Linked DNA regions of Homo sapiens: all the other regions are linked to region 1. Evidence: fine-mapped expression QTL. A gene starts in region 1. Each other region holds a variant in brackets. All regions are shown on one strand. Distances are from middle to middle.

Region 1 (5,104 bases):
CGAGGTGATGTATCATGAAGAGATGAGGCCATCAGCCACTTTCGACACAAAAATCTCTGAGGCAGCAGAGCTTGGTGGTATATACTACCTTGGTTCTCTCCTCTTGTTCCCTTACTTGGACTCATAAACCTCTTTAAGACATCATCCATCTCCTCCAGAACTAACTGGGGACTTCAGGAGATGAGTGGGGTATAAGTTCAGAGATCCTGGCTTCAAGCAAATATCCCTATTAACAGAAAATAGGTGAGGGGAAGAAAAACAAAGAAATAAGGGAAGAAAATTACTTATAAACACATAAGTTTTGGGGGAAGTAGGGAAAGGGAAAGAGGAATGACAACTTAGGTCCGGGAGAAATTATTGCTAGTACCAGGACAAGTGGGCAAGTGAAGTGCCCACCAATCCGCAGATTAATGAGCACATCCACCTTTCTACACTTTATATCCTGGAGCTAGGGTAGGGACAAGTCTAGCAGCCAGATGATGGTTCAATTTCCCTAACAAAACTAAACAAAAATGTAAAACCCTTTTCTGTAACTAACTACTCTAATCTGTAGAGAAAGATAGTCCCCGAATCAACATTGTACAAACCATAGTTACAAAAGATCATATTTATATTCACCTGCTCATTCACTTATTTTCCTGAGCCCCTAATAAGTAAACGCCAAGGAAATCAGACACAGCTCCCACCTTCACATAGTTGACAGTCTAGCATAGAAAATAAGATGTGCTAAAACACAAAAGGAAACACAAAAACAAAAACATTTCCAGATGGGAGATGTGAAATTTTTAAGTGTGAAAAATTATCTTGTACCAAGTTTTACATGAAACTGGGTTATACAATAAATCCCCAAGAAGGATGAGAAACAAGAAATGGGGGTGGGGGGTATGAAAAATACTAATGCTAATACAGCAACTAACAACACCAAAAGTGACTTTAAATATGTTATATAAATTTAATCTACCTAACAACCCCATGAGAGAAGTACAATTTTCCCCCATTTACTAAGAAGGAAAGTTGAAAGAGACTAAGAAGTCTGTTTAAGAGGCACAACTTTTATTTTATTTATTTATTTGAGACGGAGTTTCACTCTTGTTGCCTAGGCTGGAGTGCAATGGCGAGATCTTGGCTCACTGCAACCTCCGCCTCCCGGGTTAAGAGGCACAACTTCTAAGTGACAGAGGTAGGATTTGAATCTAGGCACCCTGATTCTTACCTCTATTTTGCCGCATATAATTATAACAATATTATTACTAACACAACAACGCCGCTGTAGATTGTAGATCCATAGGCTACATACTTTCATTCATTTTCTTTGAATACTCACATGTCTATAATTTACAAATGAAAACATTAAGACTCTTAAGACGTTAAGAAACGTTTCCAGGTTATGCAAGTTACAAGAAGGTAGAGCCGGGATTCGAACTCAGATGGCTCAGATTCCGAAGGCTCTTTTCACGGCACCCCACACCCGAACTTGACTCCTTACCCTCAACCAAGCCAAGCCGTATCCCTCCTGGGAACAGCCGGCACCACCCACTCCAGCCTCGCGCCTCATAGACACACTTACTCGGGCGGCGTTCCACCGCCCGCACCCTCCCAGCTCTCCCCAGCACCCTCGTCCAGCCGGGCAAGGCTCTCACCAGGCGGGAGTCGTGGGACCCTCGCAATCTTGCTGGTGATCTCTGCAGTGAGCACCGCGAAGTCCTGCTCGTAACCTTCGAAGTCGGACGACATGGCGGCTCCGGAACGAGTAGCCCAGGCCAAAGCCTAGGTCAGGGAAAGGGCCTCGAGGGGCAGCGAGGGGCCCCGCGGCTTAGGAACCCCGGAAGGTGCCCCCGAGAGCAGAACGGAGAACCGGGGACAGCTCTCAACCCAGCCGCTTCCTGGTTGTTCGTCGCAATCTCGGTTCTCCGGAAATTGGGTTGCGTGCGTGCTTTATTTTCCGCTCCGACTTTAAGATAAGTAAGTTCGCAAAGGAAAAGCGCCCCAATTAGTGCCTCCCCCCAGAAAAGCGTATGAAAATATGCAAGTTCTGAGGGATCATTAGAAGCGTTTTTTCCCCCCTTCGTGTTCTGGGAATCGGCTCCGGATCCACACGCTACAAGGCACAGCAGCTTGCTTCCGGAGGGAGGTTTGAGGCGGCGAACCTCCGGAAGTGACAGTAACAGAGACTGCGCAGGGGGCCTGAGCGGGAGAGTCCTGGCGAGGGCGCTGGCCGAGAGGTGCTCGGCTTGTAGCAGGTCCCGCACTCCAGCCTCTCGCTGCCAGGGTTTGCTCTCTGCTTGTCCTGGGCTGAGGTGTCCATGACGGAGTCATCCAAGGAGGAAAAAATCTGTTCCGGGTGAGCCCAGGCCGCCCCGGATATGCGATGGCTGAGGAGCAGACACCAGGGACCACACTGAGGTGGGAGTCAAGGCAGGGAATATAAGCACGATTTTGGTGGTCTTTGTCCCACCAGAGTGGGAGCAGGCTCTCCTGAATGTTGAGACCAACCTGGCTTACCAGGATATTTCTTCCTTGGGTGAGGATTTATTTCTAAGCCCTCTGCTCCATGACTCGGGCGGGAAACTGAGGCACAAGTCAACAGCGTCTGCTGCGTGGTAGTCTGTATTATCCATGTAGCTCAGATCCTCTTCCAGATCTTCAGATCCAGTCCAGGCAGAGATGCCCTTCCACAAATCTCTCCGGAGCTCGCCGCCCTGCCTTCCATTTCCCTCGCTCCTGGAGGCACTTCCTCTTCTTTCTTCCCTCGAATCTTCTAATTCAGGTTCTTCTCATATACTCTTCTGGTCATAATTTCACACACACCACACACACTCTCGCTCTATCTCCTCCCTTCCTTTCCTTGCATGCTCTCTTTGCTTTCACTGTCGCTCCTTTACTTTTGGGCCAAATTGACTGTTCTCTTGATGTTTGGGTGGCGGGGTGGAGGAGACTGCAGGCAAATGGCATAGACCATGTCTGACTCATACTTGGCTTAATTCAAGACTTCATAAGAGGCAGCTTAGAATTTCATAAAGGGAGGTCGTTGACTTGCCTTCTATTCTGGTTCACCTGTTACTTGTGACCTTGGTCTAATCACTCAGCCTCTCTAAGACAATTTCTGTTCTATGAAGAAGGAAACTGAATTAGATCAACTCTAAGGTCCTAAAATTCTTTGTCTTCTCAAACTATTCACTAAGCGTTGGATGGTGACAGTCCCCTGACAAGCGGAGAAGGAATAAAAAAAACTATTTTGGAATCGTGTATCCAGTTTGCATGCCATTCAAACTTGTACCATATTTTGGATAAGTCAAAAGTAGTTCTTTTTGACATTTGACAAGATATGCATCCCAAAGTGTAGTGCACTTGTGAGATGCTGTTGTGTAGGTGTTTATTGTAGTTAACAAGTATGGTATGCAATAAAGGTTTTGTTTTGTTTTGTTTTAACTGAACTTTCCCATTTTGTTTTCTTTAGGTTGGGTTTCAGACCAAGACACTGGATTCTCCTAGTTAAGATAAAGAGCTTTGGGTGCCTGACAGTGAAAATGGTGTAATCTGCGTTAACAGTTCACAGCTTGAAGGCATGACAATTAAAGAACACACATGGACTTGTGGCACATGGAAATGTGCGCACAGAAAAAGGAAATCTATAATTCTTTTAAAGTAGGAAGGCATTCTTCCTTGCCAAAATGGGTACATTCTGTTCGGTTATCAAGTTTGAAAATCTACAAGAATTAAAGAGACTGTGTCACTGGGGTCCCATCATAGCCCTTGGTGTTATAGCAATATGTTCTACCATGGCCATGATTGACTCTGTGTTGTGGTATTGGCCCTTACATACAACTGGAGGAAGTGTGAATTTCATCATGTTGATAAATTGGACTGTCATGATTCTTTATAATTACTTCAATGCCATGTTTGTCGGTCCGGGCTTTGTCCCTCTGGGGTGGAAACCGGTAAGAAAGATTCTGTAAGACAATGAACTTTAATGATAATCGTATATTTGGTTTTTGCCTTATCTACTAACCAATAATACCAAACACAGCCTACTGTTTGTCCTCACAGAGACTAAGTATATTACTCTAATCACTGATCATTTAGGCTCGGAGACTTTATTTCATATCTGTTTGAACACATTGATCCAAAATAGCATTTTCCAAAGCAATTTTATTGAATATTTGCTCTGCATTAAAAAAAAGATGGAGGTGGGGTGGAGGTGGGATAGGTTCATGGTCAAAAGTTTAGGAAACATCACATGTCATACACAGTGAGGTTTGGCTGTAGTACCTTTTTTCATGTAATACATTAACATCCCTTAGAACTGAGAAAAACGCTTTAGAAACTGCTGGTTTAAATCATAAAGTTTTAAAATCATTGCACTGAAAATATAACATTGGGAAGTATAGTCCAAATCCATTTATAGCTTAAAAACTACTGGGAAATTTATGCTTATGAATGTCCATGTTTCCTGCTAAGGGACCACACCTGATGGCTTGTCAGAAAGGCAGAATCTTGGGCTCCACTTCAGACATACTGAAGCAGAATCTTTATTTTAATAAAGTGCCCAGGTGATGCTTAGGTATATTAAAGTTCGGGAAGCACTGGTGTATATCATGTGCTATGTACTATTCAAAATGCGTACAGAGGAGGGTAAGATGTAATTTGAACTCTGAAAGAGCTTATAACCTAAGCAAGAAACAAACGCACTTGTGCAAATCACTAAACTATAAAGTAGAACGTGATGGGTGCTGTTAAAGTTAGAAGAATTGAGCATTGTTAGTTGGGGACCTGAGGGAGGAGTGGGAATTTCCAAAGGAGATGGGGAAGAGGGCATTTCAGGTTGAAAGAATGGTGGGACCACGTATTCAGAAACAGTAGACAGCCCTGTGTGACTGGGGAAAAGATCATGTAGGGCAGAGACAGCTGAAACAAAGGCAGATTGTGACAGTCTTAAATACATGAGAAATTGTAGACCATAGAAAGTTGTAGGGGTTTTCAGGCAGAGTCTGACACAGTCAGAGGTGTATTATAGGAATATTATTTTGACAATACACGGTTTGTGCTGAAGAAAAACTACAGTAAAGGAAACTAGTTAGGAAGTGATTAAAATGGCCCAAGAAAG
Region 2 (5,104 bases), 21 kb after region 1:
TGTTCCCAGTTCAGGAGGTTTTTATTCAGTGCTTGCTTCATTTACTGGAAAAGTTCACTGGGCCCACCTGTCAACTCCTTCCCCCACAGCTTCCAGCTCAGCAGCAAACTGTAGGGAACAGATTTACTCCCCAGTTCCTACTGTAAATAATGCTTTAAGAACAGCATTCCTTTTGGACAATATGTCATAGACCCAATTTTTAATACTCCCAAGTCAGATATCTAACTAGAGAGTTTAGGAAATGTTTGGTATGATCAAACTTTTCCCTTCAGTACACAATTTAATTTACGCAGAAGAGCATCGGAGACATTTGTCTCATAGATATGATTGACATGAGTGATAGGCTAAAACTAAAATTTTAGTGGTTTGTGGAGTGGCTAGAAAACATGAATTGTAAGCAGTTTTTCAGAATTTAAAAATCTCTTAGTTTGAACAGTAGAAGATGTAAATAAGCATAGAGACTGTTGGCAAGTTATGTTTATCACAAAACAAAGAAGAAGGCACAGAGGGTCCCTTTGACCCTTGAACTTGTGGTTACTAATAGTATTAAGGTTGGAAATCATGAGGAAGGACACAGAACATAAACTGGGATCTTGAAGACAGGCATGTTGATAAAAGTAGCCCTGAAGCCTTAATATTAGCAACATCGAAGATGGGAAAGACAGGATTGATTTATTTGGGAACTAAGTTTACACATTATATGTCTCAATATAAAACAAAAGCTATGGCTTTAGAGTTTAACAGGTTAAAAAAAAATAGGAGGAAAGGCAAAACAAATGTAAGAATAGTTTTTAATCCATTTTCTCACAAGCAGTGCACAGTGGGCCGGCAGGTACTTAAGTACCTTATCCTAATCCTGGATGTGCTCATACAGGCTGTCAATTTGGGTCCGAAAGTATTTGGAAAGCTCTCCTCGCTTTGCTTTCAATGTTGGTGTCAAGAGCCCATTTTCAATGGAAAATGGCTCTGGATGAAGAAAAATGGCTTTGACCTGGAAGATGAACACACACACATCCATGCTCATTAGTGATTTGGACTTCTCTGCAGAGCCCCCTGAGTGCTCTGTGAAGAAAGTGAGGTTGATGCAGTGAAAGGGTAAAGGTAACAGTAACACATGCCCATTCCCACAAACATAATTTAAGAAAGTAATGAGTAGGGAGAAGGGAGAATGGACAATAAACAGCAAAAAAAGGGCGCTGTACAAGTAACTACAAAAGGTCATTTTGTAGTTAATGGCACAAAATCTAAAATCAATTCCTTAGAAATTATACATTTAAACCTCATTAGATGGAAACTTTAAACAAAACTTTCTGACAAGAGGCCAGTATAACATCAGTGGTAGCACACACCTGTTCAAAAGTTTTAAGGCCACTTTCTTTCCCAATTTTCTGCAAGTCTTCTAAAATGGCTTCCCTTACAACCTAAGAATACAAAACATCACTTAAAGCATGGCTGTTTCAAAAAGCCTGAAGGGCTAAGCATGAACCAACTCAAAGTGCCTGTCAAAGCCATGCAGTATGAAAGCAGGAATATAAAACTATGCACAAGCACATTATATGCCCAATATTGAAAGAAAAACTGAGAAGAAAAGGCACATCTAAGTGTTAACAGTTTTCTCTGAATAGCATTTTTACTCTTCTTTCCCAATCTTTTCCCACAATGAACATATTATTTTAAATAGAAAAGAGAGTTTTATTTTTTAAACTCTCCATCCTATCCCCGAGTCCCATAAAACTATTCAGTCTGTTTGGGCTGCAGCCACTTGTGACAGATGCAGGAACTGGTGAGGCATCCTCTCCTCCACGATGGGCCCATGGGTGTGCATAAAGCTTTCCTAGGCAAGACTTACTTGGTTTTGGCACAGTTCCTCAAAGGAGCCCTTCACCCCAAGCTTGGCTGCAAATGAGGGAAGTACATCTGTGTCAGGAACCACCACTCCTACTAAGGATGACTATGGAAAGGAAATAAAAGGTGCAAGGGCATGAGAGAAGTTATGTAGGGATGTCCCCCAGTAGTTAAATAAAGCAGAATTATGTCATTGTAATAGTTATTTCCCCAAAACCTTAAATCCAGTACTAGTGTTCTTTTCTCACCATATATTTTCAACACCATGGAACTGTAATCCCATTTTCCCACTCAATATCTCATTACAAAGATGTTCCATTCAAATCTGATCCTTCAACATTAAGCTTAAAGCGCCTCTGGCTTGTCCATGTCAACTCTCCCCTTGTCCCCTAAAAGCTACATTTAAGCACAGTGTGTATAAAACAGTTCGTTGTTTTGGGATAAGGAGTTCCTTAAAGCTACGTTTAAGCATAGTATGTATAAAACAACAGTTTGTTGATCAAACTTTTGTTTGTTGCTTTATATATATTGCAACAGTTTGTTGTTTTATACATACTGCTCTTAAACATAGCTTTAAGGAACTCCTTAAGGAATGGGAACTAAGTGCAATGTGGAGCTCATTTTTTACTGAATCATTACCTTTTAGTATAGCCATTCTAAACAATTCTACTGACTTGTGTACAACGTCCATCATAGTTTTGAAATTTTTTAAATTGAAATTGCCTTATTTGAGGTTTGGAATGTAACTTCATTTTTTTTTTTTTTTT[TA/A]GTTTTATAAGCTTGGATCTTCTCATTCTGAACCCAACTATACAAATTTCCTGTAGCTACAAGAACCAGCATGGTTTGTGACTGAAATGGGCTATTGTTAAAATGATATATTACCCGTAAGCTCTCCCCGTGTACAAAAATTTGTAACACTGGTTGACTCCTGTTGTAGATATTTTCTATCTTCTCTGGTGCAATGTATTCTCCTTGGGCCAGCTTGAAAATGTTCTTTTTACGGTCGATGATCTTCAGAGTTCCATTCTACATGAGACAGATAAAAGTATCAGTATTTTTGAGCCACAGAGATGATATCAGTGGGGAGAGTGGTGAAGTCACAGTCATCTTTCTTCTCTAAAGCTGATTTCTCCAGAGACTTTTGAGCTGTCTTTCATTTCTCTTTCTTGGCTTTGGTGAAAGGGGAGGGAAGCATCGTGCAGCAAGAACCTGTCTTTACTGTATATCTATGTGGAGAGTCAATGCGCAGCCTTAGAGAAAGTCTCCTGGATCTACTGGAGTTATGCAAATTGATGCCTCATCCAAGGAAGAAATTGCACAGCTCTCAATTTCCAATCACTAATTTCCAATTAGTTCATTTTCAGAACTCTCAGAAATAGAGGTGTTGTCTTTTGTTTAGACTTTTGATTTGATTTGAATAGTTCTCCCACCACTTGACTCCCTGTTATGTTTTCCTCCTTGTTAGATCCGGGAGCAGGCTCAAACAGCTCCACTGTGCTAATCAAGCAACTCAATTACTGGGCTTGTTAGGACAGCAACAGGGCTGAGAGGACTCTGACCAGCCACCAAAGGTCATTTGCAGCTTCATTTCTCTGAACTAATTGGTCTGAGGAGCTTAGGTCTTTAGGGATTTGAATTGTAGAATTGGGACAAATGGCAAATAAAATCCACATGCTAACACCCTAAGTAGGGCGACTAACTAAACCAACACTGGAACTATCACAAGGCCGACTTGATAAATTAGCCATCAATTCAGCCTAACGTTCATTATCTGAAAGTGATTAATAAGGTGCAGCCTTCTATAACCCTGGTGTGGGGACATATCTGTTGCTTACATCCTAGGCTTATTAGAGTGTTATTTAATTCTGTTACTAGACAGAAACAAATATATTAGCAAGATACTACCAAACCCAAATCAATAAAATGCATCGTTAGGACCAGTGTTCTTAAAAGTTACATTGTCAAGCATTCCTTAAATCTCACTTAAATCTTAAATATTGATTGAGCAAGAAAGGAGTTTTAAGTTCTAGTGACATTCCCACTTCCCCAGCACATAGTTAAGACAAAACTTTTGAGAGGGAAGATCTTTTGGGAAATCCCATCACTGCCCTTGCAATAATTTCCTTTCTTCTTAGGAAAACTAATAGCAACTACTGCTAATTATCAAGCTATGCTAAAAATATGTCTCTGTATCTTCCACAGAAAGGGGCTGTGAAGGTCAATGAGAGACAAACACTAGCCTCTGCAAACACTTGATTTAGAAATCCTTCTTCCTTGTTTTGATATGCCTGTGAATTAATAGGGAGGATATTTATCCCAAGAAACTCATAAGAGGCAAAAGCTGTGGACCAACGGCATTATCAAACCAAAGTTTTTTGGGTTTTTGTTTTGTTTTGTTTTGGTAGACACAGAGTCTTGCTATGTTGCTCAGGCTGGTCTCAAACTCCTGGCCTCAAACAATTCTCCCTCCTCAGTCTCCTAAAGTGTTAGGATTATAGGCGTGAGCTGCCACACTTGGCTTCAAACCACAACTTCTGCCTCAAGAAAAGTTAAGGGGGAAAAAAAAAGGACAGAGTAGTACATCTCCCTTCCCCTTTCCTAGAGAAGTCACCTAATTTTTCCCTGGCTGGTAGCAAATTTATTCCATTGCAGGGGACCCATGCCAACTCTGATGTGCAGGTCTACCTGACCTGTTAAAGAATCCCACCTTCAGTTTGGGTCTAAAAACAGTGCTAGGATCACTGACTTACTGCTTGCTGGTTGTATATTCGATAAGGAATAAGGCAAGAAGAAAACACTTCAACTGGTCTACATCTTGGTGTCTTCTGTAACAGTGTGATCAAAATACCAAAAGTACTCTGGCAGTACTTCTGGTGTGGTAGCTTATACCAGCAATCCCAGAACTTTGGGAGGTCAAGGCAAGAGGATTGCTTGAGGCCAGGAGTTTGAGTCTATCCTGGTCAACTCAGCGAGACCCCATCTCTATAAAAATTTTTTTTTAAGAAAGACTTTCTAGCTTTGGCAGCTCCTATTCACACGTTAAATTACTTTCTCAGAATTTTATATTGTTGATCCATGGAAGAGCTGCAACCAGAACACAAATCTCATGACTTCCAGCCTATATATATATATATATATATATTTTTTTTTTTTTTTTTTTTTTTTTTTTTTTTTTTGAGACAGAGACTCGCTCTGTCCCCCAGGCTGGAGTGCAGTGGTGTGATCTTGGCTCACTGCAAGCTCCGCCTCCTGGGTTCAA
Region 3 (5,104 bases), 56 kb after region 1:
GGGGGCAGGAACAGTCACAAGAAACCCTGGGCCACTCTTACTATCTTTCTGCCTCTCGATTAGTTATTACCTGATTTTGGAGAGTCCCTTTCCATTTTAGAGGAGAAAACTGAACTTCCAGAAACTGGGATAATAGTCCTCAACTCCTTGGTTCTTTCCATATTGCATTTAGGGGGAGAAAAATAAGTAAAAACAAAAATAAAAGCCAGGTCCCATGGGTGCTAGGTTACATAAAAACAAGGGTGCTATTGTGACCACCTGGCAGGATTCTGAGAGTTGGGATTTTTGGAATTCAGCCTTACTTGGACTTGTATGATGAGGTACTCCAGGAGGCAAAAGCATTCAAAAACTAGCCATAAAGCCCAGGCAGAGAAGGGAGGACTGCCTCAGGGAAGACTGTGAAATTGAAAAAGCAGGTGGCAGTACCAAAGGGGAGGAGAAGCCCGTGCCTGTTTTGTGCTCTCCCATCCAGTCTGCCACCAGCCACTCCCTTCAGGCTGGGATATTGTGACAAGACTGGATATATATATATATATATTTGAGACACGGTCTTACTCTGTTGCCCAGGCTGGAGTGCAGTGGCACAACTCTGGCTCACTGCAGCCTCAACCTCGTGGGCTCAAGTGAACCTCCCACCTCAGGCTCCTGAATAACTGGGACTACAGGTGTGTGCCACCACACCCAGTTAATTCTTTAATTTTTTTTTTTTTTTTTGAGACAGAATCTCGCTCTGTCACCCAGGCTGGAGTGCAGTGGTACAATCTCGACTCACTGCAAGCTCCACCTCCCGGGTTCACGCCATTCTCCTGCCTCAGCCTCCCAAGTAGCTGGGACTACAGGTGCCTGCCACCATGCCGGCCTACTTTTTTGTATTTTTAGTAGAGACGGGGTTTCACTATGTTGGCCAGGATGGTCTCGATCTCCTGACCTCGTGATCCGCCTGCCTTGGCCTCCCAAAATGCTGGGATTACAGGTGTGAGCCACCGTACCTGGCCAATTCTTTAATTTTTTGTAAAGACACAGCCTCACCATGCTGCCCAGGCTGGTTTCAAACTCCTGGGCTCAAGCGGTCCTCCCACCTTGGCCTCCCAAAGTGCTGGGATTACAGGTGTGAGCCACCGTACCTGGCCAATTCTTTAATTTTTTGTAAAGACACAGCCTCACCATGCTGCCCAGGCTGGTTTCAAACTCCTGGGCTCAAGTGGTCCTCCCACCTTGGCCTCCCGAAGTGCTGGGATTACAGGTGTGAGCCACCACGACCACCCCAAGCTGGTGATATTTTATCTGGGCTTTTTCCCTCTGCCTCAATCCCACCCACAAATTAAGAGATCCTTACCAACACCCTCCTGTTCGACTATGGAAAAAAATGGTTGCACTAAGGATTTCTGCCCTCTTCTTCCAGATGGCACATTTATATTTTAATAGGAGACTTTGCAAACAATGTCTTTGAATCAGAGTCTAAAAGTTGAATTTCTGTTCAGTTGTGGTGATATGGGGGTGGGGTCAGGAAGAAGAGTGAATAACCTGACTGGTAATACATATGGGAGAAAAGGGACAGAGAATCTATGGCGTCTCAAGGGGGCACCTGCTGTCAATCTCAGGTGATTGTTACCATATAGTAACAATACTATGGGTCACAGATTGTCAGAATTCTGCCCCCTCCCTAGATAATCCAGAAGACTGCATTTTTTGAAACCTCAATTTTAACTAACAACCGTTTTTAAGAGTCTGGCATGGGATAAACAAGAACACATTTCATAGTTTAATTTGGATCACGGTCTGTTAATGTTTGACTACTCCTTTGAGACAGACTTCAATCATATTGCCCACAAACAGAACGAGACTGACCACTTCATTACAAACAAGGGAGATATTTACACATTTCAAAGCCACAGTTTCATGAGAATGAAAATACCTTGCCTATATTGGCAAGGGATTTTATTTGAGGAAGACAATGAAGGAAGGATTTATTTGTATTTGTCAATGGAAATAGCTTGCTTAGTTTGCTACCACTGACCAGGTATCCAACTCAAGTAGGAGGTGCACAGAATTTCACATGGTTCCTTCCTCAATTTTTTTTTTTTTT[G/TG]AGGCACAGTCTGGCTCTGCTGCCCAGCTGGAGTGCAGTGGTATGATCTCGGCTGATTGCAACCTCTGCCTCCCAGGTTCAGGCGATTCTCCTGTCTCAGCCTCCTGAGTAGCAGGTGCCTGCCACCATGCGCAACTAACTTTGCATTTTTAGTAGAGACGAGGGTTTCACCATGTTGGCCAGGCTGGTCTCAAACTCCTGACCTCAGGTGATCCGCCCGCCTTGGCCTCCCAAAGTGCTGGGATTACAGGCATGAGCCATTGCACCTGGCCCTTCCTCAATTTTTAAAAAAATTGAGATACAATTTACATAATGTAGAATTAACCACTTTAAAATGTACAATCGGGCAGTATTTAGTACATTCACAATGTTGTGCAACCATTACATCTATTTAGTTCCAAAACATTTTCATCACCATAAAATACGAAACCCTGAACCCATTAACAAACCCTTCAATGCCCAGCCTCTAGAGAAAGGATTAGGCTGCTTTCTGTTGCTATGGATTTATCTATTCTAAATATTTCATATAAATGAAACCATATATGTGACTTTTTGTGTCTGACTTCTTTTACATAGTATAATTTTTAAGATTCATTGATGGGGTAGTATGTCTGTACTTCGTTTCTTTTTATGGCTCAATGTTATCCCATTGTATGGATAGACTACACTCTATCTATCTATCTATCTATCTATCTATCTATCTATCTATCTATTTATCTATCTACCAGTTGATGAATATCTGGGTTGTTTCTACTTTTGATATTGTGAACAAAGCTATTACGAGCATTTCTATACAGTTTTTGTTTGAATATCTTTTTCCAGTTCTTTAGGGTGTAGACCTAGGAGAGAAATTGCTGAGTCAATGCGAATTTTATATTTAACTTTTTGCGGAACCACCAAAGTGTTTTCCACAGTAGCTGCACCATTTTATATCCAACCAGCAATGTAAGAGGGTTCCAATTTCTTTCCCTTCTCCCTAACACTGCTACTTTCTCTTTGTCTGTTTAAATAGCCATTCTAGTAGGTGTGAAATGGTACCTCATTGTGGGTTTGATTTGCATTTCTCTAATGACTAAGGATGTTGAGCATTTTTTTATGTGCTTCTTGGCCATTTGTATTTCTTTTTTGAAGAAATGTCTACTCAAGTCTTTTGCCCATTTAAAAATTAGGTCATATATATATATACACACAACACTTATCAGAGATATGATTTGCAATATTTTCTTCCATTCTGTAGGTTGTCTTTTTACTATCTTGATAATCTCTTTTTTATTTTTATTTTTTTACAATTAACAATTTTATTTTAGATATGGTGTCTCACTATGTTGCCCAGGCTGGTTCTGAACTGCTGGGCTCAAGTGATCTTCCTACCTCAGCCTCCCAAAGTGCTGGGATTACAGGCGTGAGCCACTGTGCCTGGTGTATAGTCTCCTTTTTAATGCCCAATACACTCAAACATTTTTAACCTTACAAGATTAGCGCTGAGAGGATTTGCAACCATATCATGTAACTCTCTCACTGTTTAAGTGGAAGAAACTAAGGGCCTGAGAGAAGGTGAGACTCCTGGGTCAAACCACGACAGGAGTAGGAAGCTCTGTTTACCATTCTAACCATTAGAATCTGTTAACACTTCCAAGTAAGTTCAAAGAAACAAGGGGGAAAAAAGTCACCCTCCTTTTGTCACACGTCCTGTGTGACTCAAACTACAGCTCTGGTTTAGTCACTCCACAGAATCCCCTGTAAGCAGTGGGCGTGACTGGCATTTCCTCTTCCTTTTAACATCACTCCTGGTTACGGTAGGGAAAAGCACAATAGTGGTAAAGAAAAGAGGAAAGAGGGCTCTGTCATGCTGTGTCTGGGATTTCCTGTTTCACGTAATATACAAATAGCTGAACAAGCCCCAGTACACACCAGGATGTCCCATGTCAAAAGGCTTACTCCACTTTTTGACGTGGTGATGGTGACATGCCTTGGCCTCAGACCCCAGGATGCCCATTTGTCCACCATCCTTGTCCTTGATCCACTCCAGGGCCTTCCCCTCTCCTGTGGATGGATGACTGGAGCCACAGTCACTCATCTCCTGGCTCCTAACATGTTTTATTCCCAAGTTAGCTGAAGGACGCCTTCTGCCTTCACACCTCTGTGCATGCTTCCTGGACCATTCTTGGTGTCTAGGTTATGATCACCCCATATTCAGCTTCGGATTTTTTTCCTTTTGTGGACTTGGGGCAGCATGTCTTCATTTAGTCTCCTTTTCTTTGGATAAATGTCCTAAATGGCTCCTTCTACTCTAATATTTAAATTTTTGGTCAACTATGTTTATTGCTATGAATCTTTCATACTATCCCTATTGGCTAAAAATCATTTTCTTTTGATAGTCTCTATCTTTTAAAAGATTGTATTTTTCCTATGTATATATCCCACTCAAACCCTATTCGAAGTCTGTTCCCATCTGGAAGCCTCTGTATTTGCTCTTCTCTTTGCCTGGAACATTTCCCCAGATCTGAAATGGTTGTGTATTGCTGATAGGTCAGGCCTCACCTCAAATGTCACTTCCTCGGAGGCTCACTGTTTCTGATCACCTTATTGAATATTGTCTTTACCTTTCCAGTCAGTGTCATGGACTTTGTTCTCTTCTCCATGACACTGTTCACTGGGAAATAGTCCTAGCTCCTTATCACTCATTGTGCCAACTGAGCTGATGTTCTCTTTGGAACAGAGATTTTAATTTTGTTTACTGCTGTGTCTCTGATGCCCCCACCATGCCTGGCACATAAAAAACTTTCAACAAGTGGTTGTTGAGCAAATGAACAGTTTTCCAGGTCACAATTGTTTATTCCATATACTCTCAGTTAACTCATTTTCCCTGCAGTACAAAGACCCCACCCTTAAACCCCCAAATCTTAGATCATAAGAAGTCATTCAGGCCAATCTGGAGAGGATTGCTCCCTAATCAATACTTTGGTAAGGTATTGGATAGGGATGGTGGCTGGTGACAGGGGTGTATTTCTGACACAC
Region 4 (5,104 bases), 29 kb after region 1:
CACTTGGACAAATTTCAGGTGGAACTGAGACTTAAAAGGAAAAAATGGAAAATGGTAAGTTTGCCAGAAAATAAGGGTGAAACAGTCTTATGAAATATTGGGGGTTAGGAAGTCCTGTCTAAGCAGTTTAAAACCTACAAATAGAAAAGATTATTTAGTTTGACTATAAAAACATTGGAAATTTTTATATGGCAATACACAGGGCAAAAATGATGAGACCAGGAAAAATGTTTCCAACATGACAAAAGTTAATATTACAGGTTGACTATTCTAATCCAAATGTTTGAAATCCAAAATGTTCCAAAATCCAAAACTTTTTGAGTGCCAACATGATGTTCCAAGGAAATGCTTTTTGGAGCATTTCAGATTTTGGATTTTCAGATTCAGAATGCTCAACTGTTTTATAATGCAAACATTACAAAATTGGAAAAAAATGCAAAATTCAAAACACTTTTAGTCCCAAGCATTTCAAATAGGGAGATACTCAACCTGTATTACTCTGTGAAGAACTCTTAGAAATATAAAAAAGGACCAAATTATCTTTTGCCTGTTTTTCTATAAGGAAGTAATAGAATAATTCATGGATAAAATATACATGTCAATAAGCAATAGAAAGATGTTTGGTGTAAATAAAAGAAACAAAACTGTAATAAGATTTTTCATTTATCTGATTAGCTAATATCTGAATGACTGATAAAGTCTGTCACTGGCAAGAGCATGGGCAAATAAGGCCTTGTATACTTGCAGAAATGTGCAAAAAAGATCTTTCTGGAAGAAAGTTTGATAATATACATTATTACACACACACACACACACACACACACACAGATACATTGTGTGTATTACTTTGACCCAATAATCCCTTCTTGCGTGGATTTATTCTAGATTATTAATTGATTATAACAATGAAAAATATCATAAGCAACTCAAGTGTCCATTAATAGGAGATTAGTTATTTGGGTACGGTTGACCCTTGCACAACACAAGTTTGTATGGCACAGCTCCACTGATAGGTGGATTTTCTTCTGTCTGTGCTGCCCCTGAGATAGCAAAACCAACCCCTCCTCTTCTTCCTCCTCAGCCTACTCAACATGAAGACAGTGAGGATGAAGACCTTTATGATGATCCATTTCCACTTAATGAATAGTAAATATGTTTTCTCTTCCTTATGATTTCTTAAATAACATTTTCTTTTTTCTAGCTTACTTTATTGTAAGAATACAGTATATAATACATATACAAAATATGTGTTGATTAATTACATTATTGGTAAGGCTTCTAGTCAATAGTAGTCTACTAGTAGTTAAGTTTTTGGGGAGTCAAGTATTTTTTTTATTTTTATTTTTTTGAGATGGAGTCTTGCTCTGTTGCCCAGGCTGGAGTGCAGTGGCGCAATCTCAGCTCACTGCAAGCTCCACCTGCCGGGTTCACGCCATTCTCCCGCCTCAGCCTCCCGAGTAGCTGGGACTACAGGCGCCCACCACCACGCCCAGCTAATTTTTTTGTATTTTTAGTAGAGACAGGGTTTCACCTTGTTAGCCAGGATGGTCTCTATCTCCTGACCTCGTGATCCGCCCGTCTCAGCCTCCCAAAGTGCTGGGATTACAGGCATGAGCCACCATGCCCGGCTAGGGAGTCAAGTATTATACATGAATTTTTGACTGCCATGGGGGTAGGCAATCCTAACTCTTGCATTGTTCAAGGGTCAACTACATTCAGTAAACTACTGTGAAATCATTAAAATGATGCTGAGCTTTATTTGACAAGGAGCAACATTAACAAGTGTTTTAGAGCACTGGTTTTATTTATGTGAAGGTTTCTACACACAGATGCCTGAAGAGATGGTTAGAAGGATATTTTCTTTGGATTTTGAGAATTTAGGTGACTTTCATTTTGGTACCTTTTAGTTGTTTTCATTTTTATTTAAACAGTGAGCCTGTTTGTGCAAAAGTAAAATAGCCTATTCTCAAAGAAGGTGCTTGGCTTACCTGACATCCCATTGCTGCCCGGAAGAATGTCATGACTGAAGTGGACATGGGGGCAGCTCCAGTGACAATTACACGAACCCTTCCGCCCAGGCTGTCCTGTTCAGTGGAAACAAAAGACATACTAAAACCTATTCTCTTGGCTTCAATTTCCTCCACTGTAGAGTGGGTATAATAGCCTGTGCAGCGTTGTTATGAGAATTAAACTGACATCAATTCTCACGTTAATTTACAAAGCACTTAGAATACAGTCTGGATTGTAGAAAAGCACTTAAAATGTTAGCTATTATTGTCATCACTATCCATAGCTGGGACCAGAAGCCATATATTTCTCAAATAATTTGTATTCTTCAGCCCCTCAAATTGCTTATAATCTCAACAGACCACCAAAGAAAATAAGAGAGAGTGCTAGAACCTAAATAAAACTTTTTTTTTTTTTTTTGAGATAGAGTCTGGCCCTACTGCCCAGGCTGGAGTGCAGTGGTGCTATCTCAGTTCACTGCAACCTCCACCTCCTGGGTTCAAGCGATTATCCTGCCTCAGCCTCCCATGTAGCTGGGATTACAGGCACCCACCACCACGCCCGGCTAATTTTTGTATTTTTAGTAGAGACTGGGTTTCACCATGTTGGTCAGGCTGGTCTTGAATGCCTGACCTCAGGTGATCTACCCACCTAGGCCTCCCAAAGTGCTGGGATTACAGGTGTGAGCCACCACACTCAGCCTGCTTTTTTTTTTTTTTTT[A/TTTTTA]AACCTACTCCCTTTAGTAGTAAAGTGGTACAAGAAAGATCTCAAAAGGCAGTGGACACAAAGTCTGAAAGGATCTCTAGTTAAAGTGACGCTCAAGCAGCAGAGGAAAAGCAAGGTCTAAGGAGTCAGAAGGCAGCCCAGGTATTTGCCTGCTTCAGTCCAGGACCTGCCCAACCTACCTGGATCTTTGCAAAGATGAGCTTGTCCCAGAAACTATCATGCCTGATGATACCCTTTTGAAGCTCTTTGAATTTACTGGAAACAGCCAGCTTCAACAAGAACTTCTTCAAGGGTGTCTTGGCCTCATTTTGTACCTGCAGAGTGATAGCTCCTTTTAGTTGGAAACCTATTGGAGATACTCATCAAAGCCATTAGTGAGCAAGAAACAGTGTGTTCTAGCTTTATAAGGAAGTGGTCTCACAGTCTCACAGTCATGAATTGGATTGCTGAATAATGATGAGCCCAGAGAATTATGGCCATGCTCAGAAAGAAGTGAACTTAATGCAGAGCTCCAGTCCTCCCACTTCCTGCCCCAATTTTTAGTCCTTGGGAAACAACTTGACAACTGAGATAAAGAGGGACTGCCTAAAAAGTCACCTGGGGGGTACTAGATTTAAAACAAACAAACAAACAAAAAACACAGCTCAATGGGCACCACTTCTAGGGCTTTTGATTTAGTAGGTCAAAGGGCAGCCTACGAATCTGATTTTTTTTTTTTTTTTTTTTTTTTTGAGACAGAGTCTCGCTCTGTCGCCCAGGCTGGAGTGCAGTGGCGCCATCTCGGCTCACTGCAAGCTCCACCTCCCAGGTTCACGCCATTCTCCTGCCTCAGCCTCCTGAGTAGCTGGGACTACAGGCACCCGCCACCACGCCCAGCTAGCTTTTTGTATTTTTAGTAGAGACAGGGTTTCACCATGTTAGCCAGGATGGTCTCAATCTCCTGACCTCGTGATCTGCCCGCCTTGGCCTCCCAAAGTGCTGGGATTACAGGCGTGAGCCACCACGCCCGGCCCAGGAATCTGATTTTTTAAAACAAGTATCATGTCTTCCTCCCTCTCCCTCTGTAATGCTTATATAACTGAACTTGGAGAATTCCCACCCTTCCCTATAAACAAGGTGTCTTTAGCCACACCATACAAACCCCAACAGAGTTTCCTACCTTCCTACTAAAATGATTTCTTCCCTTTGGGCTTAATTCTGACACCATTTTTCCAGCTCGCATGATTTCCCTGGTCTCCCTGACTCTGACCTCACTGTGACCCTACATTCCATCAACCACACTCCTGCCAAAGGAGAGCTTCCCCAAGTACAGCTCAAAGTGACCCCTTATTTCCAAAATTTAGTCCTGAACTCTTATCTGGCTTTCAAGATTCCACCCTACTGGAAGTCAGATTCAAGGCAATTGAAGTCTTTTTTCTTGTTCAAAATTTGAAGAATCCCTCTCCATCCATCTTCCATGTTTATAACCCCATTTTTGGGCCTCCAGCCAAGCAGGGGTGATAATTTTCATCTTCTAATGTAAATTGTGCTCTAGGACATAAGCATCTTCTTATGCCTATAACATTATCATTGTACCAGTATGTCATAATCTGTCTCCAAGATCCATGCTCAAATGCTTCCTGCATCATGCCATTCTTAGAATCTCCCTCAACTAAAAGAGATTTATCTTTCTTCAACATTCACAAGACTCACCCTCCCTCAACAAGTCACTGACAAAGAGCTAGTATTAGAGACGTGTGCTAATAAAGTCCTTCATTTTAAAAATACATTCCAGGGAGATCGAGACCATCCTGGCTAACACGGTGAAAACCCGTCTCTACTAAAAATACAAAAAATTAGCCGGTCGTGGTGGTGGGCACCTGTAGTCCCAGCTACTCAGGAGGCTGAGGCAGGAGAATGGCACGAACCCGGGAGGTGGAGCTTGCAGTGAGCCGAGATCGTGCCACTGCACTCCAGCCTGGGCGACAGAGCGAGACTCCGTCTCAAAAACAAAAACAAAACAAAAAAAAAATACATTCCAGAAGTGAACTGTGTATTAGGTATTATATTATACAATAACTATCTCTGAAAAATAAAAAATGTACAACAACAACAACATATGAACAAAAACCATAACAACCACCAAATCTACTAATTGCGTAGCATGGTAAGAAACTGCTGGAATTGTTATCAGTTCTGCTAGAACACTGCCTGCCCTGTCACCAGAGCCCATTTAGCATCTGCTGAGAGTCCTAAGAGTGAAAGGAAGAGTTAAAATCTTGGAGGTGGTTGGGGAGGTGGGGGAGGGTTCCAAAGCATGTGAAGAATGGCCATGCATTACTTCCTCACGGATCCCAGCCCGAGGAATCATCACATACTATATTGCCTGGGTTCAAA
Region 5 (5,104 bases), 78 kb after region 1:
CTAGATACAGAGTGTGGACACAAAGGTTCTCCAAGTACCCACTAGAGTAGCTAGATACAGAGTGTCCATTGGTGCATTCACAAACCCTGAGCTAGACACAGGGTGCTGATTGGCGTGTTTACAAACCTTGAGCTAGATACACCGTGCCGATTGGTGTATTTACAATCCCTTAGCTAGACATAAAGGTTCTCCAAGTCCCCAGCAGTCAGGAGCCCAGCTGGCTTCACCCAGTGGATCCAGCACTGGGTCACAGGTGAAGCTGCCTGCCAGTCCCGCGCCATGAGCCGGCACTCCTCAGCCCTTGGGGTGGTTGATGGGACTGGGCGCAGTGGAGCAGGGGCCGGTGCTTGTCGGGGAGGCTCCGGCCACACAGGAGCCCACGGAGGGTGGGGGAGGTTCAGGCATGGCGGGCTGCAGGTCCTGAGCCCTGCCCCGCCGGGAGGCAGCTAAGGCCTGGCAAAAAATCCAGCACAGCACTGGTGGGCCGGCACTGGTGGGCCGGCACTGCTGGGGGACCCAGCACACCCTCTGCAGCCGCTGGCCGGGGTGCTAAGCCCCTCATTGCCTGGGGCCGGCAGGGCCAGCCGGCCGCTCTGAGTGCAGGGCCCGCGGAGCCCACACCCACCCGGAACTCGGGCTGGCCCGCAAGCACCATGCGCAGCCCCGGTTCCGCCCACGCCTCTCCCTCCACACCTCCCCACAAGCTGAGGGAGCGGGCTCAGGCCTCAGCCAGCCCAGGAAGGGGTTCCCACAGTGCAGCAGTGGGCTGAAGGGCCCCTCAAGTGCTGCCAAAGTGGGAGCCCAGGCAGAGGAGGTGCCCAGAGCGAGCGAGGGCTGTGAGGGCTGCCAGCATGCTGTCACCTCTCACTTGGAAGGTCGATGGGAAGGGGCAACGTGGAGCAGGGGGCGGTGCTCGTCGGGGAGGCTCTGGCTGTGCAGGAGCCCATGGCTGGTGGGGTTGGGTGGGGGAAGGCTCAAGCATGGCAGGCTGCAGGTCCCGAACCCTGCCCCACAGGGAGGCAGCAGCTAAGGCCCAGCGAGAAGTCAAGCACAGCAGCTGCTGGCCCAGGTGCTAAGCCTCTCACTGCCGGGGGCCAGCGGGGCAGGCCTGCTGGTCTGAGTGCGGGGCCTGCCGAGCCCACGCCCACCCGGAACTCTCGCTGGCCCACAAGCCCCGCGTACAGCCCCGGTTCCTGCCCGCGCCTCTCCCTCCACACCTCCCCGCAAGCTGAGGGAGCCGGCTCCAGCCTCAGCCAGCCCAGGCAGGGGCTCCCACAGTGCAGCACGGGCTGAAGGGCTCCTCAAGTGCCGCCAAAGTGGGAGCCAAGGCAGAGGAGGCGCCAAGAGCAAGCAAGGGCTGTGAGGGCTGCCAGCACGCTGTCACCTCTCACTTACTGTATTTGGTCAGGTGACCAATACCAAAATCAGAAGCTAATACCACTTCCTGTTGACTCTTGTGTGGAGGAGAGACTAGCATATTAACATAGAAGTCTTCTTAGGTCAGATTCTCATGTGCATTAACTTTTTTTTTTTTTTTTTTTGAGACGGAGTCTCACTCTGTTGCCCAGGCTGGAGTGCAGCAGGTCTGTCTTGGCTCACTGCAACCTCTGCCTCCTGGGGTTCAAGACATTCTCTTGCCTCAATCTCCGGAGTAGCCAGGACTACAGATGTGTGCCACCACACCTGGTTGATTTTTGTATTTTAGTAGAGATGGGGTTTCACCATGTTGGCCAGGCTAGTCTTGAACTCCTTACCTCAAGTGATCTGCCTGCCTCGGCCTTCCAAAGTGCCAGGATTACAGGTGTGAGCCACTGTGCCTGGCCGTTTTTTTTTTTTTTTTTTTTTTTTAAGACAGGGTCTCACTCCTGTCACTCAGGCAGTAGCAACATCATGGCTCACTGCAGCCTTGACTTCTTGGGCTCAGGTAATCCTCCCACCTTAGGCTCCTGAGCACTGGGACTACAGGTCAGTGCCACCACACCATTTAGGTAACGGTCCGTCCTCTCTCCAGCCACCTACGTTTGCTGAGCCACAGAGGCCTGGATTCTTCAAAACACAGGATTTTTCTTTTTTTGACATAGGGTCTTCCTCTGTCACCCAGGCTAAGTGCAGTGGTGCAATCTCGGCTCACTGCAACTTCCACCTTCTGGGCTCAGGTTATCCTCCCACCTCAGCCTCCAGAGTAGCTGGGACTACAGGCATGTACCGCCATACCTAATTTAAAAATGTTTACTAGAGATGGGTTTTGCCATATTGCCCAGGCTAGCCTCTTACTCTTGGGCTGAAGTCATCCACCCACTGCAGCCTCCCAAAATGCTAGGATTATAGGCATGAGCCTCTGCACCCAACCTGGTTCACTAACTATTTTTTTTTTT[TA/A]AGAGATGGAGTTTTGCTCTGTCACGCAGGCCAGAGTGCAGTGGTGTGATCTCAGCTCACTGCAACCTCCGCCCTGTGGGTTCAAGTGATTCTCCTGCCTCAGCCTCCCAAGTAGCTGGGACTACAGGCGTGCACCACCATGCTTGACTAAGTTTTGCATTTTTTAAGTAGAGATGGAGTTTCACTATATGTTCACAAGGCTGGTCTCAAACTCCTGACCTCAGGTGATTTGCCCGCCTCGGCCTCCCAAGGTGCTGGGATTACAGGGATGAGCCACTGCACCCAGTCTGTTCATTAACTCTTGAAGGTCACGTTTTTGCTAGAGTCTTAGTCCTTCCTTAGTATGTGAAAGAAAAGGGCTTCTAAGAAGTGGCTAAAGAAGACACAGTTCAATGGGGACTAGGGGTGTGACAACTACTTGACTGGACTAGAGTCCAGTTGTGTTAAGTAGCAACCCACTGAACTCCTTTGATACCACACTTACTGGAGAGTAAGATACTCCAAGCCAGTGGTTCCCAAACTTCAGCATCACAATCCCCATGGAGGGCTTGTTAGTTACAACATAGATTTCTGGCTAGAATTTCTAACTCCGTAGGTCTGATCTGGGGCCCAAGAATCTGCATTTCTAACAATTCCAGGTGATACGGATGCTGCTGCTCTGGGGACCACCCTTGGACCACATTTAGGATCATCTCTGCTTCAAGCAGCTATCCTGTCTTCAAAGGGCCCGGCTACTGAAATGTCACAAGGGATTGCATTTGGGGTAGTCTTGGCTATGGTGAGCCTGCAGGTGGGGGGAAAACTTGACACAGAATGGAACTCCTCAGATGCTCCAGGAGAGAGGTGGTCTTCAAAAGCAGCCAGCAGGCCAAGTCTCAGAGAAGTGCTTTGGCCACAGCAGGAGGTATCGGCAGTCACGGTCGCACCTCTTTAGGGAAATATAAAACAAAACTCACAGCATCACCACTAGACAGCCCAGGTGGGTATGAGAGTGGGTGTGTGGGGGACATCAGCTGATCCAACAACAGTCATTTTACTTGTGAGGGTACCTAAAATGCCAAAAAGTGAGGCAGCTGGCTCAGGTGATGTATTAACTAATGAGAGAGATAAGCCCAGGACCCAGGTCTCCAGTGCCCGAGCAGGCTACACCATCTCGATAAACCACTGCTTCCTACAGCCTCTCTCTTCAAAAACGTGTTAGATAAGCTTCTTTGCAACACGCTCTGTCACTCCCTCCCCTCCTACAGCCATATCCATTTAGAATCCAATACGAAAATTAATAACCTTTAGGCTTGGGCATCCTGCAGCCCCTAAAAAGTACAAACTTTCACTTTTAAGGTCATTCATAGGTGAGGTCTGGAGGAGTGAGGAGTCTGCCCCACAGCTACAACGCTGACATACTCACAACCATGCTGCTGGGATCTGTTTGTATACAATCCCGCTACAATGCTGACATACTCACAACCACACTGCTGGGAACTGTTTGTATACACTCCCACCCTCTTCCTAGGGCCAAAGAAACCACACATGTACTACACAATGTTGTTCTAGAATACTAGAGTCTAACATTCTAGAGTTTTGTAACACAGCCTGGAAATAGTCATTTTATCTTTAATGGCAGAGGCTGGCAACTCTTCAGAAACAGAAACCAGGCTTTCCCCTCGTTTTATTTTATTTTATTTTACTTTTGAGATGAAGTCTCACTCTGTTGCCCAGGCTAGAGTGCAGTGGCACAATCTTGGCTCACTGCAACCTCTGCCTCCTGGGTTTAAGCCATTCTCCTACTTCAGCCTTTCGAGTAGCTGGGATTACAAGCACCTGCCACCATGCCTGGCTAAATTATTATTATTTTTGTGTATTTTTAGTAGAGATGGAGTTTTACCGTGTTGGCCAGGCTGGTCTTGAACTCCTGACCTCAAGTGATCTGCCTGACTTGGCTTCCCAAAGTGTTGGGATTACAGGTGTGAGCCACCGCACCCAGCCCCCCATGTTTTAGAAAGCAGAGAAAGACAGACAATATAAGCAGACTAACTTTACATAGTGCCATCATGCATTCACATAGCTCCTCCCGGTTTATAAAATGCTTCTAGTTTGCCTCTTAGCAAACCTGTGAGGTCTGAGTGGGAACAATACTTTCAACATCCAAACTTCCAGTGGCTGCTGGGAGCCAGGTCCTGTGACAAACACTTCATTTGACCCTCACAATACACTTGGAAGGTAGTTATGATTTGTACAGACAAGAAAAATAGAAGCTCAGAGAAATGACATCCCTTCCCAAGATCCTATAGCTTGGTAACAGAGTGATGACGGTGGTGGGGCCAAGTGTTATTTTTTAATAATTTCAGGCGATTTTGCAAAGCCAAGTGATTTGCAGCTTGTCTCTGAAAATCTGCCTTTCTTTAGGAAGCACAGCTGGTTGCAAAGCAGATTTCACAGCAGGTTGAGACGAGTCAGGCAGAGCAACCAAATGTTACTTAAAGGTCTTAGTGAATATGTCCAGATTCCAGAGACCACTGAACCTAATGAAGTCCTTTTTTTTGAGACAGGGTCTCGCTCTGTTGCCCAGGCTGGCGTACAGTGGCACAATCTTGGCTCACTGCAACCTCTGCTTCCTGGGTTCAAGCAATTCTCCTGCCTCAGCCTCTCGAGTAGCTGGGATTACAGGCACCTGCCATCACACCCAGCTAATTTTGTTTTGTTGTTGTATTTTTAGTAGAGACAGGGTTTC

Which allele goes with the higher level. Alleles are on the strand shown, and positions count from the first base shown. SD is a standard deviation of normalised expression in the study named. Not every link is listed here.
In carriers of allele TTTTTA in region 4, the expression in lymphoblastoid cells of the gene that starts at base 2,194 in region 1 tends to be lower than with A alone (small effect, 0.37 SD a copy in TwinsUK).
For the expression in monocytes of the gene that starts at base 2,194 in region 1, TA is the low allele of the variant in region 5 and A is the other (moderate effect, 0.44 SD a copy in Fairfax 2014).

What was found.
Region 2: its variant is fine-mapped to the expression of ZDHHC6 in whole blood (INTERVAL, PIP above 0.99).
Region 3: its variant is fine-mapped to the expression of ZDHHC6 in whole blood (INTERVAL, PIP above 0.99).
Region 4: its variant is fine-mapped to the expression of ZDHHC6 in lymphoblastoid cells (TwinsUK, PIP 0.95).
Region 5: its variant is fine-mapped to the expression of ZDHHC6 in monocytes (Fairfax 2014, PIP 0.95).

Annotation. Positions count from the first base shown.
Region 1 is chr10:112,444,004-112,449,107 of GRCh38, reverse strand. ZDHHC6 (zDHHC palmitoyltransferase 6) reads left to right here and starts at 2,194. Exons shown (of 11, transcript NM_022494.3): 1 at 2,194-2,403; 2 at 3,458-3,938. The coding sequence starts at 3,672. It overlaps VTI1A (vesicle transport through interaction with t-SNAREs 1A), which reads right to left and starts at 1,893. Exons shown (of 8, transcript NM_145206.4): 1 at 1,641-1,893. The coding sequence starts at 1,734. RefSeq lists enhancers at 1,828-2,087, 2,288-2,407.
Region 2 is chr10:112,423,105-112,428,208 of GRCh38, reverse strand. ACSL5 (acyl-CoA synthetase long chain family member 5) reads right to left here. Exons shown (of 21, transcript NM_203379.2): 18 at 2,728-2,871; 19 at 1,850-1,951; 20 at 1,350-1,421; 21 at 1-991. The coding sequence ends at 851. It also overlaps a transcript of ZDHHC6 not described here. Among named protein-coding and RNA genes, the nearest start is that of ZDHHC6, 21 kb to the left of the region's middle. The variant TA/A (reference allele first, on the strand shown) is at 2,613.
Region 3 is chr10:112,388,351-112,393,454 of GRCh38, reverse strand. All of the region lies in intron 1 of ACSL5 (acyl-CoA synthetase long chain family member 5), which reads right to left. Among named protein-coding and RNA genes, the nearest start is that of ACSL5, 17 kb to the right of the region's middle. RefSeq lists silencers at 3,777-3,826, 3,847-3,976. The variant G/TG (reference allele first, on the strand shown) is at 2,087.
Region 4 is chr10:112,414,826-112,419,929 of GRCh38, reverse strand. It overlaps ACSL5 (acyl-CoA synthetase long chain family member 5), which reads right to left. Exons shown (of 21, transcript NM_203379.2): 13 at 2,908-3,042; 14 at 1,989-2,084. Among named protein-coding and RNA genes, the nearest start is that of ZDHHC6, 30 kb to the left of the region's middle. The variant A/TTTTTA (reference allele first, on the strand shown) is at 2,729.
Region 5 is chr10:112,365,892-112,370,995 of GRCh38, reverse strand. No RefSeq gene overlaps it. Among named protein-coding and RNA genes, the nearest start is that of ACSL5, 5.7 kb to the left of the region's middle. The variant TA/A (reference allele first, on the strand shown) is at 2,376.